Linked DNA regions of Homo sapiens. The gene in region 1 interacts genetically with each later gene. Each region holds a gene or a part of one and is shown in the gene's direction. Other genes may lie near its edges.

Region 1 (3,650 bases):
GCCTGGCTAATTTTTTTTTTCTTTTTCTTTTTTTTTTTTGTAGAGACTGGGTTTTGCCCTGTTGCCCAGGATGGTCTTGAACTCCTGAGCTCAAGCAATCCTCCTGCCTCCCAAAGTGCTGGGATTACAGGCATGAGCCACCACGCCTGGCTCATGCATGGCTTTTGTATTTCAGTGTAATTTTTGCTGACTTAAAGTTACAATTCATAAATGGTGTGAGTACATCAAGCTGCAGAGTGTTCCTAGCTGTCAAGGGCTGGAGTTCTTAATGTTTCCTCCTCCATTTTATTATAAAAAATTTTCCAGCACAGAAAGGTTGTAGTGAACACCCATATATGTAACAGCAAGATTCTACAATAAATATTTGCTGTATCCAGGCTGGGCAACATAGTGAGGCCCCGTTCTCTACAGGAAAAAAAAAAAAATTAGCTGGTCGCGGTGGTGCACATCTGTAGTCCCCACTGCCTGGGAGGCTGAGGTGGGAGGATTGCTTGAGCCTAGGAAGTCAAGGCTGCAGTGAGCTGTGATCACACCACTGCACTCCAGCCTGAGCAACAGAGTGAGACCCTGTCTCAAAAAAAAAAAAAATTGGGCCAGGAGTGGCTCACACCTGTAATCTCAGCACTTTGGGAGGCCGAGGTGGGCGGATCACGAGGTAGGGAGTTTGAGACCAGCGTGGCCAATGTGGTGAAATGCTGTCTCTATAAAAATATAAAAAATTAGTTGGGTGTGGTGGCGTGCGCCTGTAGTCCCAGCTACTCGGAAGGCTGAGGCAGGAGAATCAGTTGAGCCCGGGAGGCAGAGGTTGCAGTGAGCTGAGATCGTGCCATTGCACTCCAGCCTAGGTGACAGAGACAGAGTAAGACTCAGTCTTAAAAAAAAAAAAAAAAAAGCCATGTATTTTGTAATCTATCTACCTGTCCATTAATCTATCTTTTATTTTCATTTATTTCAAAGTAAGTTGTAGACATCAGTATACTTCATTCTAAACACTTTAACATGTTTACCATTAGCTGGATTACCCTTTTTTTTTTTTTGGAGGGGTGAGGAGTAAAATTTATATACAGTAAAATGCCTAAGTCTTAAGTGTAGCATTTGTAAAGCTGCTTTGTTTTTTGTTTTTTTTTGAGACAGAGTCTTGTTTTGTTGCCCAGGCTGGAGTGCAGTGGAGCGATCTCGGTTCACTGCAACCTCTGCCTCTCGGGTTCAAGCTATTCTCCTGCCTCAGCCTCCTGAGAGTAGCTGGAATTACAAGCGCCCACCATCACATCTGGCTAATTTTTGTGTTTTTTTAGTAGAGACAGGGCTTTACCATGTTGGCCAGGTTGGTCTCCAACTCCTGACCTCAGGTGATCCGCCAGCCTCGGCCTCCTAAAGTGCTGGGATTACAGGCGTGAGCCAATGCGCACAGCCATGCTGCTTAGTGTTTTAAGGAAGTCTAAAAAGTATTCTTAGGATATTTGTTTCTTGATAGAGTAGTTCATTAAGGCTGTAAAAATTGTTAACTTTAGGGTATGGGAATAGAGAAGAGTGTGCTAAGACTAAAACACTAAAAGGAGTTTCAGTAAGAAGTGCTTCTTTCTAGTGATTCCTTTTGGATTCTTAGGTAAAACAGCATATCTCATGTTCTCTTAAGAGAGTAGAGGAGGCTGGGCGTGGTGGCTTATGCCTATAATCCCAAGCACTTTGGGAGGCCAAGGCGGGCAGATCTCCTGAGGTCAGGAGTTTGAGACCAGCCTGGCCAGCGTGGTGAAACCCCGTCCCTACTAAAAATACAAAAATTAGCCAGGCGTGGTGGCATGCACCTATAATCCCAGCTACTCGGGAGGCTGAGGCAGGAGAATCGCTTGAACCTGGGAGGCAGAGGTTATAGTGAGCCAAAGTCACGCCACTGCACTCCAGCCTGGGCGACAGAATGAGACTGCGTCTCAAAAAAAAAAAAAAAGAAAGAAAAAGGCCAGGCGCAGTGGATCACGCCTGTAATCCTAGCACTTTGGGAGGCTGAGGCAGGCGGATCACCTGAGGTCGGGAGTTCGAGACCAGCCTGACCAACATGGAGAAACCCTTTCTCTACTAAAAATACAAAATTAGCTGGGCGTGGTGTCACATGCCTGTAATCCCAGCTACTTGGGAGGCTGAGGCAGGAGAATTGCTTGAACCCAGGAGGAGGAGGTTGAGGTGAGCCGCGATTGCAATAATTGCACTCCATCCTGGGCAACAAGAGTGAAACTCTATCTGAAAAAAAAAAAAAAAAAAAAAAAAAAAAAAAAAAAAAAAAGCAGATGAATCTCTACTCACATAATTTAGTCAGTAATGGTAAAAATAAGTTTAGAAAAAATTGGAGACACAATATGGTAGCGTAGCATGCAAATATAAACATATAATATTCCCAGAGACACATGCACGCTTTTAGTTGGCTTATAGAGAGCATTATATGTTTGTATGTGTGCATTACATGTTTTTCTTCATTGATTGAAATTCTAAACAGTACAAAAATTTTGTAGAGTCAGAGGAACATATAGATCCCTTCTATGATATTCTCTTGTGTTTTTTTCCTTGGGAGACAGTCAAAATGAAATAAGCAACATTTTATTTTATTTTATTTTATTTTATTTTTTTAATTTGAGACAGAGTTTCTGTCGCCAGGCTGGAGTGCAGTGGTGCGATCTCAGCTCACTGCAACCTCCGCCTCCCAGGTTCAAGCGATTCTCCTGCCTCAGCCTCCCAAGTAGCTGGGACTACAGGCGCGCGTCACCATGCCCAGCTAATTTTTGTATTTTTAGTAGAGACGGGGTTTCACCATGTTGGCCAGGATGGTCTTGATCTCTTGACCTCAGGATCTGCCTGCCTCAGCCTCCCAAAGCGCTGGGATTACAGGCATGAGCCACCATGCCCGGCGAAACAACCTAATTTTAAAAGACTGAAAATGCTTTGGCAGAAATGCAGTGTCTTTGCATCCGCTAGATTAGCAATGATTAATAGTTGAGTGGAACCTAACTTAATTCGGTGAGTGGGGGGGAAATACATTTGTTTTTGAAGACATTTCTTGAAGACACATTGCTTATTGCTGGCTGTGTTTACCTATTTGTTGTCTACTCCTCCGCTTTTTTCTAGAAGAGTGAACCTGGAACTTAAATGTAGCATTTGTATCACTAAAAATACCACAAGTATATGGCCATCCAAATCTGTTAACAGTAGGCTTCTGTGAGAAATTGAAGGGTTTCTAACAGACTTCCTTAGGAAGATTTGGTCATGCTGACTAAAACAGTAGTACTTGGTAGCTAGCTGGCATTAGTGTTTTGGGTTTTACATGTTTTCCCTGGGATAGAGATGTTACTTAGCTGTATTTCAAGCAGAGAAAAACTCTTGTTTCAGCCAAATATGTACAGAAGGAATGTTAGTTTTCTTAAGGGTAAGTGCATATTTGGTCAATATCAGTACCTTTCAGTATTTTATATTCTCATGTTCATGTTTGCGTTGTTGTTTTTTAGTCCTATTGATTCCAACAATATTTTTAGTTTTGTTTTTTTTTTTGAGATGGAGTGTCTCTCTGTCACCCAGGCTGGAGTGCAGTGGCGTGATCTTGGCTTACTGCAACCTCCGCCTCCCGGGTTCAAGCAATTCTCCTGCCTTAGCCTCCCGAGCAGCTG
Region 2 (3,650 bases), on another chromosome or scaffold:
TAAAAATACAAAAAATGAGCTAAGCATGGTGGTACATGCTACTCCCGAGGCTGAGGTGGGAAGATCACTTGAGCTTGGGGAGGTCAAGGCTGCAGTGAGCCGTGATCATGCCACTGCACTCCAGCCTAGGTGACCCTGTCTCAAAAAAAGAAAAATGTGGTATATACATAGAATATTATTCTGCCTTTAAAAAGAAAATTCTGGCTCTCCCTCTCACTCTCCCTCTCCCCACGGTCTCCCTCTCCCTCTCCCCACGGTCTCCCTCTCCCTCTCTTTCCATGGTCTCCCTCTGATGCCGAGCCGAAGCTGGACTGTACTGCTGCCATCTCGGCTCACTGCACCCTCCCTGCCTGATTCTCCTGCCTCAGCCTGCTGAGTGCCTGCGATTGCAGGTGCACGCCGCCACGCCTGACTGGTTTTTGTATTTTTTTTGGTGGAGACGGGGTTTCGCCATGTTGGCCGGGCTGGTCTCCAGCTCCTAACCGCGAGTGATCTGCCAGCCTCGGCCTCCCGAGGTGCCGGGATTGCAGATGGAGTCTCGTTCACTCAGTGCTCAATGTTGCCCAGGCTGGAGTGCAGTGGCGTGATCTCGGCTAGCTACAACCTCCACCTCCCAGCCGCCTGCCTTGGCCTCCCAAAGTGCCGAGATTGCAGCCTCTGCCCGGCTGCCACCCCGTCTGGGAAGTGAGGAGCGTCTCTGCCTGGCCGCCCATCGTCTGGGATGTGAGGAGCCCCTCTGCCCGGGCTGCCCAGTCTGGGAAGTGAGGAGCGCCTTTTCCCGGCTGCCATCCCGTCTAGGAAGTGAGGAGCGTCTCGGCCCGGCCACCCATCGTCTGAGATGAGGGGAGCGCCTCTGCCCCGCCGCCCCGTCTGGGATGTGAGGAGCGCCTCTGCCTGGCCGCGACCCCGTCTGGGAGGTGAGGAGCGTCTCTGCCCAGCCGCCCTGTCTGAGAAGTGAGGAGCCCCTCCGCCTGGCAGCTGCCCTGTCTGAGAAGTGAGGAGCCCCGCCGCCCAGCAGCTGCCCCTTCTGAGAAGTGAGGAGCCCCTCCGCCCGGCAGCCGCCCCGTCCGGGAGGTGGGGGGGCAGCCCCCGCCCGGCCAGCTGCCCCGTCCGGGAGGGAGGTGGGGGGCAGCCCCTGCCCCGCCAGCCACCCCATCCGGGAGGGAGGTGGGGGGCGCCTCTGCCCGGCTGCCGCCCCGTCTGGGAGGTGGGGGGCGCCTCTGCCCGGCCACCCCTTCTGGGAAGTGAGGAGCCCCTCTGCCCGGCCGCCACCCCATCTGGGAGGTGTACCCAACAGCTCATTGAGAATGGGCCATGATGACGATGGCGGTTTTGTTGAATAGAAAAGGGGGAAATGTGGGGAAAAGATAGAGAAATCGGATTGTTGCTGTGTCTGTGTGGAGGGAAGTAGACATAGGAGACTCCATTTCGTTCTGTACTAAGAAAAATTCTTCTGCCTTGGGATGCTGTTGATCTATGACCTTACCCCCAACCCGGTGCTCTCTGAAACATGTGCTGTGTCCACTCAGGGTTAAATGGATTAAGAGCGGTGCAAGATGTGCTTTGTTAAACAGATGCTTGAAGGCAGCATGCTCCTTGAGAGTCATCACCGCTCCCTAATCTCAAGTACCCAGGGACACAAAAACTGCGGAAGGCCGCAGGGTCCTCTGCCTAGGAAAACCAGAGACCCTTGTTCACATGTTTATCTGCTGACCTTCCCTCCACTATTGTCCTATGACCCTGCCAAATCCCCTTCTCCGAGAAACACCCAAGAATGATCAATAAATACTAAAAAAAAAAAAAAAAAATACTGCAAGAACATCTGCCCCAGAACTGCCTGTCCAACCTGGACTGACATCATCCTTGTTATTGATCTTTGTAGCCAAATATAATTATTTTAAAACAAACAAAAAAAGAGAATGTAAGCAGTATAAGACTTTAAAACACACAAATGAAATATACATGACTACATGCTTCAGTGAACTAAAACTTTCATCTGTGATCTTTATTTTGCAACATTCTGAAGTAACATTACAGTCTTTTCAGTGTGCTGTGTCATTTATATCCCTTACTTTATCCTAGGAATCCTGTATTGCCATTGAGCATATGCAAATTGAGACATGTGCATAGCTTCTCCCCGTTGAGCCCATCAGTGGGGAGGAGCTATGTACCGGGGACATTTGGCAAAGATTTTCATGAGTCTCTTGGATGTAACAGCTCCTTAAGAAAACCTCAGTTTACCTTCCCTATTTTTTACCATTTGTAAAACTAAGGCTCAGTGATGTAAAATATAACACATTCTGTGCTGTGGCATAACTGCAGCTTAGGTTTTTATATTCAAGACAAGCAGAGGTATAGCTGAAAAGGTATGAACACTTACTATGCTTCAAGATCCCTTCGTTGGTTTAGTTGTGGCATTTTAGAACAGCTGACTTGGGACTAAAGCATCTTTCTATCTGGGATCAGTATTTCTAAGTTGCCTTTAAGCTGAATAAACATTTGGTTTTTATATTTAATTGCTTCGATGTGAAACACTGCAATTTAAAAAATTACACATATGTAATATAGTATTTTACACTAAATAATAGTGACTGGCAGTCCACTGGCCGAAGAAGTATTATTTTTCAGATATTCTGCTCTGTCATCAGCTGTAGACACTGACAGGTATTTATCTGGAAAGGCTTGCTGTCAGGGGTTCACAGTGCTGCTTGTGGGTTATCTCCAGACCCTTTACATTCGGCACTTTAGGACAGCGTGAGTCACAGGTTGCACTAGAAGTTGCCTTTGAAATTAGACCTAAACTATGTGGAACTGGAACCCTTGTACACAAAGCTCTCTATCATCCAAATCCTGCTGAACTCTCTTAGGAAAGAACAGTTTTACAGATTCATTCTTTCCACACACAAGATTTCCCCACTGCCCAGTTACTCTCACCTTTTTATTTTCTTGACTGTTATGTTTTACTTGACTCTGGAATCTTACCTTGTACTCTCACATTTACATGGAAGTATAGCTTATTTCACCAATTATACTATCAAAAGCAGAAGTAGTTACTTACACCTGAAAATTTGTACTGAGAATGTAGCTGTGAATATGTTTAAGAAAGTATACTTAAAGCACAAATCCAAGGAAGTATATTTAAATCAAAGCAAGAAATCCCATTTCCAAATGGCAATAAAGCATGTGTTACATAGAATCAGTGCATGAAAGTGTTTTAGTAGCCCAGATTAGATTGTACCCTGGCGAATAAGCAAGAGTTCTTTTTCATTTTCATCTTGCAATTCAACTGGGTATTTGGGTTCTTTTTCTATTCACTCATGTCAGATAGAGACATGCATGTTGTAAATTATTTTGTCAGAATGAAAGCCTGGCAGATTAAATGCTTTCTTCTCTTCTTGCTTTACTTGATATCAATCTCTTGTTCATTTCTTGATAATATGTTTGGTTATTTTTGTTTTCATTGCTTTTAGTGTCAGAGATGGCTTTGGATTCCCCGTTCTGTGTGCTGCTGTCTGGCTCCTGAACCCAGCTGTAGAGGTGTGTGTCAATCCCAACTGGTGAAGTACTGAGAAGAAGCTACACAAAAGGCAGCAAAGTATTAGTAAGTGTACCTCTGACATTTTAACCACCTCTGACTTTTCCATGGAATG
Region 3 (3,329 bases), on another chromosome or scaffold:
TCTCTCCCGACCCCCTCCTCTTCTCTGCATCTCTCTCTCTGCCTCCTCTCCTCTGCACCTCTCTCCCAACCCCCAGGTCCTCTCAGGCCTAGCTCAGATGATGCGGGAGTGCTGGTACCCAAACCCCTCTGCCCGACTCACCGCGCTGCGGATCAAGAAGACACTACAAAAAATTAGCAACAGTCCAGAGAAGCCTAAAGTGATTCAATAGCCCAGGAGCACCTGATTCCTTTCTGCCTGCAGGGGGCTGGGGGGGTGGGGGGCAGTGGATGGTGCCCTATCTGGGTAGAGGTAGTGTGAGTGTGGTGTGTGCTGGGGATGGGCAGCTGCGCCTGCCTGCTCGGCCCCCAGCCCACCCAGCCAAAAATACAGCTGGGCTGAAACCTGATCCCCTGCTGTCTGGCCTGCTCAAAGCGGCAGGCTCCCTGACGCCTGGCTCTCTCCCCACCCCTATGGCCAGCATGGTGCACCCCCTACCACTCCCGGGACAGGATGCAAAAGAGGCTCCAGAGTCAGAGTGCCAAGCCAGGGAATCCCAGTCCCAGACTCAGAGCCCGGGCCTGCACTTTGCCCCCTGCCCTTGATCAACCCCACTGCCCCACCAGAGCTGCCAGGGTGGCACAGGGCCCTGTCCAGCCCCTGGCACACACTTCCCTGCCAGGCCTCAGCCTCTAGCATAAGCTCCAGAGAGCCAGGGCCCATCAGTTTCTCTCTGTGGATTTGTATCTCAGCTCCATGATGCCTTGGGCTTTCTGTCTCCTCAACAAGAGTGCAGCTTGCTGAATGTCAGCTGCCTGAGAGAGCTGGGGCCTGACTTACTAGGGCATTAAATCCTAAGAGGTCCTACTGAGGTGTGGCAGGATCACAGGCCAGTGGAAAAAGGGCAGGTCAGATGGGCAAGGCCCAGGACTTTCAGATTAACTGAGAGGATATCGAGGCCAAGCATGGCAGGGGGAAGGTCAGTGGGTGTCAAGAGACCCAGGTCTGACCCCGGATGTTTGCTCCATGTGACAAAAGCAGGCCTGTCTCAGGACCTTTTCTTTTCTTTTTTCCTTCTTTTTTTTTTTGACACGGAGTTTCGCTCTTGTTGTCCAGGCTAGAGTGCAATGGCATGATCCCAGCTCACCGCAACGTCTACCTCCCAGGTTCAAATCATTCTCTTGCCTCAGACTCCCGAGTAGCTGGGATTACAGGCACATGCCACCATGCCTGGCTAATTTTGTATATTTAGTAGAAACAGGGTTTCACCATGCTGGCCATGCTGGTCTCGAACTCCTGACCTCAGGTGTTCCACCTACCTCAGCCTCCCAAAGTGCTGGGGTTACAGGTGTGAGCCATCGCGCCTGGCCAGGACCTTTGTTTCTTATCTACATATTGGAAGATTTGGTCCTGATGTCCTTTGAGGCTTCTTTAGCTCTAGTTCTCTGACACTTCAGCCTATATCACAGCTAACTTCTTCAGTCTCATCTATTCCTTATGCTCCAGCCCCTGGCAATTTGCCTCAAGATGGGGGTTTGAAAATAACTTTACCTGACTCAAGGAGTGTCTGGAGCACCTCCTAGTCTAAGTCTGCAAGCTCCAGTTCTTGCCTAAAACCATGCCAGTGGCCACCCTTGGGCTCAGACAGCTCTGGGCCTTTTGACCACAAGCCAGCCCCTCGCCCTCTCTGTGGCATAGTCTTCTCTGCCCCAGGACTGCAGGGCGGCTTCCTCCAAGGCTTCCAAGGCTCAAAAGAAATTTGGCTCCATCCAAGAAGGCTCCAGCTCCCCTACTGGCCCCTGGCTCAGGCCCACACCCCTGGCCAGGCCCAGAGAGTGTGTCTCAGGAGAATTCAATGGCTCTAGAGAGACACACAGAAAGTTTGGCATTTGGAAATTTCAAGGATGTATGTATGCTCACGTATGGAGCAGGTTGTCCTGGTCCCTGGGTGCAGGGAAGTGGGCTGCAGGGAAGTGGATTGGAGGGGAGCTTGAGGAATATAAGGAGCGGGGGTGGAGACTCAGGCTATGGACAAGGACAGCCCCAAGGTTGGGAAGACCTGGCCTTAGTCGTCCTCAGCCTAGGGGCAGGGCAGTGAAGAAAGCTCTCCCCGCTCCTGCTGTAATGACCCAGAGTAGCCTCCCCAGGCCGGCATCTTATGTGTGTCTTCCACCATCCTCATGGTGGCACTTTTCTAGGCCTGTCTCCCAGCATTGTGCAAGGCTCGGAAGAGAACCAGGAAGTGAAACTGGGTGAAAACAGAAAGCTCAATGGATGGGCTAGGTTCCCAGATCATTAGGGCAGAGTTTGCACGTCCTCTGGTCACTGGAATCCACCCAGCCCACGAATCATCTCCCTCTTGAAGGATTTTATTTCTACTGGGTTTTGGAACAAACTCCTGCTGAGACCCCACAGCCAGAAACTGAAAGCAGCAGCTCCCCAAAGCCTGGAAAATCCCTAAGAGAAGGCCTGGGGCAGGAAGTGGAGTGACAGGGGACAGGTAGAGAGAAGGGGGCCCAATGGCCAGGGAGTGAAGGAGGTGGCGTTGCTGAGAGCAGTCTGCACATGCTTCTGTCTGAGTGCAGGAAGGTGTTCCAGGGTCGAAATTACACTTCTCGTACCTGGAGACGCTGTTTGTGGGAGCACTGGGCTCATGCCTGGCACACAATAGGTCTGCAATAAACCATGGTTAAATCCTGAGCTCCGGAGTCTTCCCAGGCCGATGCCTCTGCAGTGGCCCGTCGCAGAGGTCCAGATAAAACCAGAGGGATCCGGGGAGAAGAGGGTCCCAGGATACACGCCCAGCTTTGCCCTTAGACAGGTCACAGTTTCCTCACGCCCCTGCTCAGACCCCCGCGGGGGCCCAAATCTCAGTTCCTACCCCAGATTGGGAGCAGCCTAGTCGCCGCACCTGCCACGTCGCCCTCTGCTGGCCGAGGGCTGCCCAGCGGCCGCCTCCCATCCCCACACAGGGACCGCGGGGCCTTTCCCGGCAGGGTGGGGCAGCCTTCCCCGCACCCGGGGGCCAACGTCTGTGTGCTCACTGACTTGCTGTTCTGCAGGGACTGTCCCCCTAATACCACACCTAGCGAAGAGCGTTCTGCTTCCGAACCGGCAGCTTGGACCCTCCCTCCTCAATTCCTTGTTCTCACTTCCCTTCTCAAATGGGGTCCCCATCTTGCCAGGAGTCAGTCCCCATTCCCAGCATGGGAAGATCCCCTTCCCTGGGGACCTACCTTGTCCTGGGATCAGAAGGCACTTCACACACACATCCCATTCTCACACCCGGAAATTCGGGGCGGGGACATGCTGTGGGGGAGGCAGATACTAAAAGAAGCTGAGAGGGTCCT

The links.
Region 2: changes in CDK12 (region 1) and TIMM23B together harm fitness less than expected from each alone (positive genetic interaction), as found in Homo sapiens cells (one large-scale study listed by BioGRID).
Region 3: changes in CDK12 (region 1) and ACVRL1 together harm fitness more than expected from each alone (negative genetic interaction), as found in Homo sapiens cells (one large-scale study listed by BioGRID).

Annotation. Positions count from the first base shown.
Region 1 is NC_000017.11:39,464,378-39,468,027, forward strand, and holds part of CDK12 (cyclin-dependent kinase 12), read left to right. Parts: intron 1-3,650. UniProt on the Homo sapiens protein: Cyclin-dependent kinase that phosphorylates the C-terminal domain (CTD) of the large subunit of RNA polymerase II (POLR2A), thereby acting as a key regulator of transcription elongation.
Region 2 is NC_000010.11:49,969,542-49,973,191, forward strand, and holds part of TIMM23B (mitochondrial import inner membrane translocase subunit Tim23B), read left to right. Parts: intron 1-500; exon of another isoform or gene 501-917; intron 918-3,470; coding exon 3,471-3,523; 3' UTR 3,524-3,650. UniProt on the Homo sapiens protein: May participate in the translocation of transit peptide-containing proteins across the mitochondrial inner membrane. the PAM complex.
Region 3 is NC_000012.12:51,920,683-51,924,011, forward strand, and holds the end of ACVRL1 (activin receptor type-1-like isoform 1 precursor), read left to right. Parts: intron 1-76; coding exon 77-211; 3' UTR 212-2,679; downstream 2,680-3,329. UniProt on the Homo sapiens protein: Type I receptor for TGF-beta family ligands BMP9/GDF2 and BMP10 and important regulator of normal blood vessel development. On ligand binding, forms a receptor complex consisting of two type II and two type I transmembrane serine/threonine kinases.